Homo sapiens: one gene and its partner. The protein of the gene in region 1 interacts with the protein of each later gene in a biochemical or structural test. Each region holds a gene or a part of one and is shown on either strand. Other genes may lie near its edges.

Region 1 (4,177 bases):
CTTCCGTCTTGTTTTCCTCCCCCCTCCCAAAGTAAGGTAAACACAGAGTAAATTATGCATTTAAAATCTATCCAGGGTGGCTGAACAGAATTTATTAAAGAGGACCTGCACACTACACACTCTGTACCAAAGATTTATATACTGCAGGCTGATTTTCTTTATTGTTTTATATCGTCATACAAAATAAGGTTTTATAATACTAGTAGTAAAAAAAAAGAAACCACAACATAAAGTACTTAGAACCATACAAATATACACATATAATGGAAATACATAACTTCTACTTTGCTTTTAAAGCTTGATAAACATATAGTTACAACTAGAGAAATTATACGATGATTCAAATTTAAAATGATATAATTATTAAAAATAGCAAATTTTAAAAACATTTCAACTTACCTGGTTTCTTTCTGGATTTTTCATGACCTAGCTGTCCTAGATCATTACATCCACATGTGTACACTGTTCCATCATCCAGAACAAACACAGTATGTCTGAGTCCACATCCTACATCTCGGACCCTTTTATTTATAAAGAAGTCACTTTTTCTGGGCTCTAGTACAATTTCTTCATCAATTCCACCCAAACCTAGCTGCCCAAAGGATGCATTTCCCCAGCACAACATGCTTGTAATTATTTTGGTCTTCCAGTTTCAATAAAAAATTCTCTTCTGAAACCCCGGAAAGTTGGAGGTACCCTATGTCTGAGGAAATAGAAAGAAGTTAATATGACTTCAAAGAAAAAAGGATGTATAATTGCTCTTTCAAGTGCTAGGCTACAATAATTGCTACATGGTAAACATTAAATATACTTTATAACATGCTACATAAGTATCATTCAGTTTCAAAAACCAATCAGTTGTATTTTTTAAAATGTATCATACAGAAATTTTTAGGGAAAATATGACACTTTCTATGATCCTTTGCAAAATTTAAAACATATTAACTAGTTTTGACTTCTGGTTATCTTGTGATAGACTAAACTAATAGGAATAAGTACCTTGATGAAATTAATCACAATTTTTTCTACTTTTTGCTTTAAATAATTTCAATGGGAACAAGAAATAAGACATCTTTCCTCTGCCCAAAAAGCAAATATACACAGTGCAAAATTTAGCCAACTGCAGAAACATAACCTTGCAATCCTAGTATAATTAAGCTTTCTAATACCTACCTCCACATCAACAGAAAATGGAGTTCTTATCTGTAACAGAAATAAAACCAATAATGGAAATTTAAAGCAATTTTCCACAATTTAAACGACTCTCCCAATTACTCTTTAGCCCAGAGAGAAAATGAAGATTCTCTTACCAAACCATAATCTTAAATCACCTCCAAAGATCCCAGATTTCAAATCAAAATACTAACATTCCAACCTCACTAATTTTAAAACTAAATCAATGTGCATAATTATAATACAGAAAAAAAAACATGCAATTTAAATATCAATTCTCTCCAAAATTCAACCTCTTTTATTACAAGTGGTAACCGGGATTAAAAAAATCACCCGTGGGCAATCTATATCTATCTATATCTCTGAGACAATTATTTAAAGATTGGCGGGGGGGAATTGCAAATAACTCCAGCACTGCAGATTTTTCAAGAATAGGAATGGATAGTCTGATGGCGAAATCTGTAGAACTTTCCAGCACACTGACTGAATATTTCCTCACTTGTAAAGAAAGACACAAATAACAGAGTCCACTTCATCTATACATACGTAGACTTTTAAACACATCGCGTTACTAAATATCATAATTACAGGAAGTCAGCCTTATTCTGTAGCAGTCATCCACATTCTTACAGAGCCTGCGAAGTTTCAACTCCAATTTTCCTATGTTCCTGTTAGCAAGTGCCCAAGGTGTCCCATTCCACGACCCATCATCCCATTAACAGAAGTTTGATTTCATTCTTTTGGGGTATCAGAACTCGATAATTCCCAAGAGTTCTGCATTGTCTTCCCATATTTAAAAACAAAATAAGAGTAATACAGGAAAATACCCCGACTTCAGCGCGCGAGGTTTAACCACCCTTTTCTTTAAAACACAGAGGCGTCCTCTCGCCAGCAACAGGTAGGGAAATGAGAAGCAGTTTAGTCCCGTCTTTCCCTGAACGTGCACCCAGATCAGCTCATGGGGACTGGGAAAGAGAAATCATCTGCACACACCCAACCTCGCAGCCAAGCAGACGACTACCGCAACCGGCCGCTCGCAACAGCTTCAGAGGCCGGCGGCCGAGGCTTGGCAGTGCGCGGCCTCAACCTGAGAGAAGCCCATCCCCAGGCAGATGAGACATTCCAGCCCCGGGGCCAGGGAGCCACAGCCCTGCCCTCGCCCCACGCCCCTCACCCCCAGGAAGCGCGGAGAAAGCGCCCTATGCCGGGCCGGCCTGCATCCGCCCAGCCCGGCCTGCCCCTCCCTAACGCCGTCACACGCCCCCGAACCCGCTGGGGCCACAACTCGCCCAAGCCCTTCAGGGTAGGGGAAGCCCAAGGTGACGGGGGGCGGCCCCTGCCCAGAGAGCAAGGCAGCGCGGTCGCTGAAGCACGTCTCCGGCTCCTGGGACCCTCCTCTGTCAGCCAGTGGCGACGATCACCAGGGCACCTCCGGCGTCTGTGCCGCTGCTCCGCTGCTCCCCTCCCCGGCCCCTGGGAAACTTTACCGGGTTCCTTAGAGAAAAGCGGACGCCACTGCTGTCCAGTCCAGAGACAGCCGTCAGCGACCCGGATGGAGCGGGCGGGGAAGAACGGGAGGCAAGCGGGGCGGAGAGCACCAGGGGTGGGGAGAGTTGGGGAAGAGACTGGGTAGGAGAAGGCAGAGGGGGAGGTGGCCACGCGAGGGAGGCGGGGGAGGGGCTGGCCGGAAGTGAACCGCAGAGCACGCGCGCGAGCCCGCCCACTTCCCGGCCCCGGCACCGGCGCCTGCGCCGAATCTTCCGGGGGGGGGGGGGGGGGGGTGGCTGGCCACAGGCGCCTGCGCAGTGTGCCGCTTTGCGTTGCTTTAAGAGGGAAAAGCCAAATACAGAAAGTTGGAGTTTGCGAAGACAAACGAAGAAGATGTCAACTGTTTTTGAGAATGCTTCGGCGTGCACAAAGCCTTTTAATGAAGAAAATCACTTTGTTTTTTGGTTTGGTTGTCTTTGTGCTCATGGATGCTAGCTAGTCTTTTTATTATTTTACTCTCTCTTTTCCCAAGGAGATTTTAAAGTAGCAGATGAAACATCACAATTATGAACATAAAGACTGGTGAAGAGTTATTTTATCCCATGGCCTCAACTGGAGCCAGTCTGAGGATGTGAGATGTGTTGATGGCAATGGCTGAAGCTACTCTACTACCACCACCACCAGTTCAGTTTCCTTGTACAGTGTTGGCTACCATCACTTTCTACACTCTCCCTGAAAGATAGGCTTGAATTGCAGGGTCTCATTCTATCAGAGAAAATTACACATTGGCTGCAGTCCCTGATTCATAAAAACGAAGTCTGGATCTCCTAGGCCAGCCTTAACTTCTTAAAAAGCAGGAGAACTTGAAACAATGCACTTTTGAAATTGTAAGTTGGGTATTGCTAGAATGAATATTCAGTACCTAGAAGAAGTTCCACAAATAGGCCATCTTTCTTTTTCTTTTCTTATTTTTATTTATTTATTTATTTATTTATTTATTGAGACAGAGTCTCGCTCTGTTCCCCAAGGCTGGAGTGCAATGGTGCGATCTCAGTTCACTGGAACTTCCGCCTTAGCCTCCTGAGTAGCTGGGACAACGGGCATGCGCCGCCATGCCCGGCTAATTTTTGCATTTTTAGTAGAGACAAGGTTTCGCCATATTGGCCAGGCTGGTCTCAAACTCGTTACCTCAGGCGATCCACCCGCCTCGGCCTCCCAAAGTGCTGGAATTACAGGCGTGAGCCACCGGTCCTGGCCTGTTTCTTTATCTCTTGTTGAAAAACATGTTTTAGATAAGAACTGTCTGTGCTAGAATATGTTCAAGTGTGTGTATTCGTGTCCTAGGCTTGCCATATAAATTAAAACAGATTCGGTGGCTTAAAACAACAGAAATTTATTGTCTCACAGTTCTGAAGACCAGTTCAAAATCAAGGTGAAAGTAAGCTTGGTTCTCTCTTGGGGTCTCTGAGAGATAATCTTTTCCAGGCTTCTCTGCTAGCTTCTGGTGGTTGCCAAC
Region 2 (3,500 bases), on another chromosome or scaffold:
CAGGGACAAGAGCAGCCCTGGCTGTTGCTTACCGTCTCCAAGGTGAAACTTTGGCCTGGATAGCTCCCCAGAGCCTCAGCCCAAGCACACTTGGATTCTACCAGCCAGCCTCCACCTTTGCCCTAGTAAGATCTTAGCCCACTGCTCCATAGCCCCTGCCAGCGTGAAACCAGAGGGAGGCCTTTGCATGAGTTGGGGCAGAGCATGCCCAGCAGCAATCTACCCGTGGAGCTGGCTAGCAGGCTCTCAGGCCACTAAATTCTCAGGGCCAGACTGCCCAAGCCTTACCACTTAAAACCATTCCATTCATTTTTATCATTTTCCAAAGAGCCACAGATTAACTGTTCATTTCTTTGCTCAGTAGACTACACAATCTCAATTAGAAAAGGGACAAGAGGTCAGATGGTCCCGGCCATCTTCAGGTCCCTAGAGTAGGCAAGGGCTGCACTCACAGGCCAACCCCTCCCATGCAGAGGTGTCTCTGCCACCCACACCCTTTGCCCTGAGCCCTAACACCATCAAGCCTAAAGAAATCTAAAGGACTCATCTTCAAAATCAGACTGGAAGCTCCCAGATTTAAACATTCTGAGCATACTAAATCATTACAAAGCATATCTTTCCTTAGTTATCCAAATGATTATGGAAATAAACTACAAATCCAATAACTGCTGATCAAATTCAGGGACTTAAAAAAAAAAAAGCATGACCTTATAACCAGCATCAAGAAGAAAGCATCTACAGGAGGGAGCATGCTCCATGCTCACCTTATAACCAGCATCAAGAAGAAAGCATCTACAGGAGGAAGCATGCTCCATGCTCACCTTATAACCAGCATCAGGAAGAAAGCATCTACAGGGAGAAATCATCTACAGGAGGAAGCATCTACAGGAGGAAGCATGCTCCATGCTCATGACCTTATAACCAGCATCAGGAAGAAGCATCTACAGGAGGAAGCATGCTCCATGCTCTGCTTTGGCAAAGCAGCCAATCCATCCATGAGAACAAATTATATACAGGACAGCGGCAGGCACAGGGCAAGGGCCAGAGGCTCAGATGTGCAAAGTGGGAATGAAAAGGAACAGAGAAGGTGAGTGGATGAGGAAGAACAGGAAAGGAGGGCACTCACGCAGGACAAGGGTGTGAGCTGAGGTAGCTGAAGGCTACACAATGACCAAGTGAGGCCGCCTGGTGGACAGATGGTGCAGCTTCCGGGGAGAAGGCAGGAATGGAGACAGGTGTGGGAATCCTTCATGTCTGGCATAATCATCTATGATGCCGAAAGTAGTAGGGTCCCGAGACAAAACAGAACAGGAGAACAGCAGGAGACCAACAAGAGTCATGTTTAAGAGTGAGGAGGAAGGAGTGGCAGAACAGGAGCGAGTGGCAGGCTGGTCACAGGACTGGGGGCTGGAATGCTGCCCGTGCTCCAAAAGCTCAGGAGGCAAGCAAGGGCCATGATGCCAGCACTGCCGAGCTAGAGGTGTGACAACAGTGGGGGCAGCCTGTGGGCTGGGTGTGACGTGGTTTCAGGAGAGTGAGAGGAAGGGGGATTGCAAACTGGAGTTAATTATAAGACAAGCCTCTTGAAGGGGAGGGGATCAAAGGATGCAGAAAAGAGTAGGCACTAAGAGGGTGCTAAGGAAAGCCATCGTTAGGAGGGCCTTGAGCCCATCAGAAGGCAGAAGACTGTGAGATGGGGGAGCTGGGCTGTGGGGGCAGACACTGGAGGCATAAGCCCCAGAAAAGACATGGGGTGAGGGGAACATGTGGGCAATTAGGAAAAGGGACTTGAGACAAATGGAAGGCACAGGTTGGAGGGGACCAGGAATAAAGCCCGAAATACAGGTATCCAAAGGGTTAGAGACATGAATGCAAAACCAAGAGAGAAAGCAAAATATCTAGAGGGGAATGCTTGTCCCCTCCTGAGGAGCTCAGAGAAGAAGGTCCTGCTGATCCATCAGGCCAGGCGCAGGGAAGTCAGGAAAGAGCAGGAGCACAGACACACTCCTTTTCTCTGTGTCTACAGATCTGCAAAGCTCAGGACTCCCTGAATTTGACAAAACGAGTGCCAAGATGTGACTCTACTCAGGACCCAAGGCTACACTCCCTACCTTATCACCCTAGAGCGACAGCCACTTCTGTGCATCTGCTGGCTGCCTAGACTAAGAGCCTACTAAGGAGCAGAAAAACAAGCCCAACAGCACACACATCACCTTAAAGAATAATCTGGTAGGAAGTGGAAGTGTTCAATACTCACAGGAACAATAAGCCCTTGCCAAGTCAATAAATTAGCTTCATCAACCTGGATGTTACGGAAGTTTTTCATCCCACATTTGCGGATTTCTTCAAGCTCCTGTTGATTGACAAAGCATAAAGGGGTGTCAAATAGGGGAAAGCACCACATATTAAGATCCCTCCTGATGCCCTCAAATTAAACCAAGTGCCAAAAATGCTAATGACAAAATTGGACAGTGAGGACTAAACTGTGCTTGGAGTGGTTAAGGAGGCATGGAGCTGCCATGGCGGTCCCCTCTGCAAGGTTGTTGCCTCTCCCCATGCCCCAGACCAAGACAAGCCCCCACCTCAGTGAACCCCCCTGAATAGGACAGGGGGAACCATGCTTCTGCAGACGTACCACCTCCTCTTTGGGTTGGTCACCATGGCTGTTTAAATCCCTCAGCACCCTGCATAGGGCAGACATGTGGCAGGAGCTATCCTGAGGTGCTCTACACCTGATACCTTCCAATCAAGATTCATTAAGCACTGATTATGCACCGGATGCTGAGAAGCTAAAGATGAATAAAACTGGGGACTGGGAACAAACCAGACACAAACGCATATCCAGTTTTCTACCCAGTGCTATAAGTGTGATTTCAGAAGGACTCCACCTCAACATGGGCACACAGCAAAGAGAACCATCCAGTCTGGGACTGGGGTGGGAGTGGGGGGGTGGGGACGGGAAACCTTCACTGAGCCTGTTTCCTCAGCTGCAAAACAGACCCAGAGTGCAGAAAAGGAAAGGGAAGCCATGTTGTGGGCAACAGGACCCCTTGCAAATATGTGGGGTTATTGTTGTATAAACAGTCAATGCAGCAAGTGCCATTTCACCCAGAAAGCACAACTTTACGACTTCAGGGTCCTGCCTGAGATGTCTTCAGAACTGTCTGTCACCTGTTTTTCAACTGTGCACCAGCCTGACATTTCCCATTGCCTCCAACATCTCAGTGAATGCCTGGCAGGCGCTATAACCCAAACCACCCAGCAATGCCCTCCTGCCAGAACACCAGCCTCGCCAACATTCCTCCACTCTGACACATGAAGTGCCACTCTACCCGCCTCAGCCCGGCCTCCCATCCAGTGGCACAAAAGCCGCCTCCACACCTGTCAGGCACCTTCTCTTCTGCAGCCCGAGCACCATCCAGCTGAGCCCTGCCTCCTTCGCCAGGCTGCTTCCTCTGGCCCAGCTCCAGCACCCTCCAGAACCTCCTTACGTGGTACTT

What was found. Proteins that work in one complex are often made in the same cells at the same time.
Region 2: the proteins of HERC4 (region 1) and UBE2L3 form a complex in vitro, tested with the Homo sapiens proteins (2 studies listed by BioGRID).

What each region holds. Positions count from the first base shown.
Region 1 is NC_000010.11:68,072,484-68,076,660, forward strand, and holds the start of HERC4 (probable E3 ubiquitin-protein ligase HERC4), read right to left. Parts: upstream 2,801-4,177; 5' UTR 2,661-2,800; exon of another isoform or gene 1,204-2,660; 5' UTR 1,174-1,203; exon of another isoform or gene 704-1,173; 5' UTR 626-703; coding exon 400-625; intron 1-399. UniProt on the Homo sapiens protein: Probable E3 ubiquitin-protein ligase involved in either protein trafficking or in the distribution of cellular structures. Required for spermatozoon maturation and fertility, and for the removal of the cytoplasmic droplet of the spermatozoon.
Region 2 is NC_000022.11:21,591,714-21,595,213, reverse strand, and holds part of UBE2L3 (ubiquitin-conjugating enzyme E2 L3), read right to left. Parts: intron 2,354-3,500; coding exon 2,258-2,353; intron 1-2,257. UniProt on the Homo sapiens protein: Ubiquitin-conjugating enzyme E2 that specifically acts with HECT-type and RBR family E3 ubiquitin-protein ligases.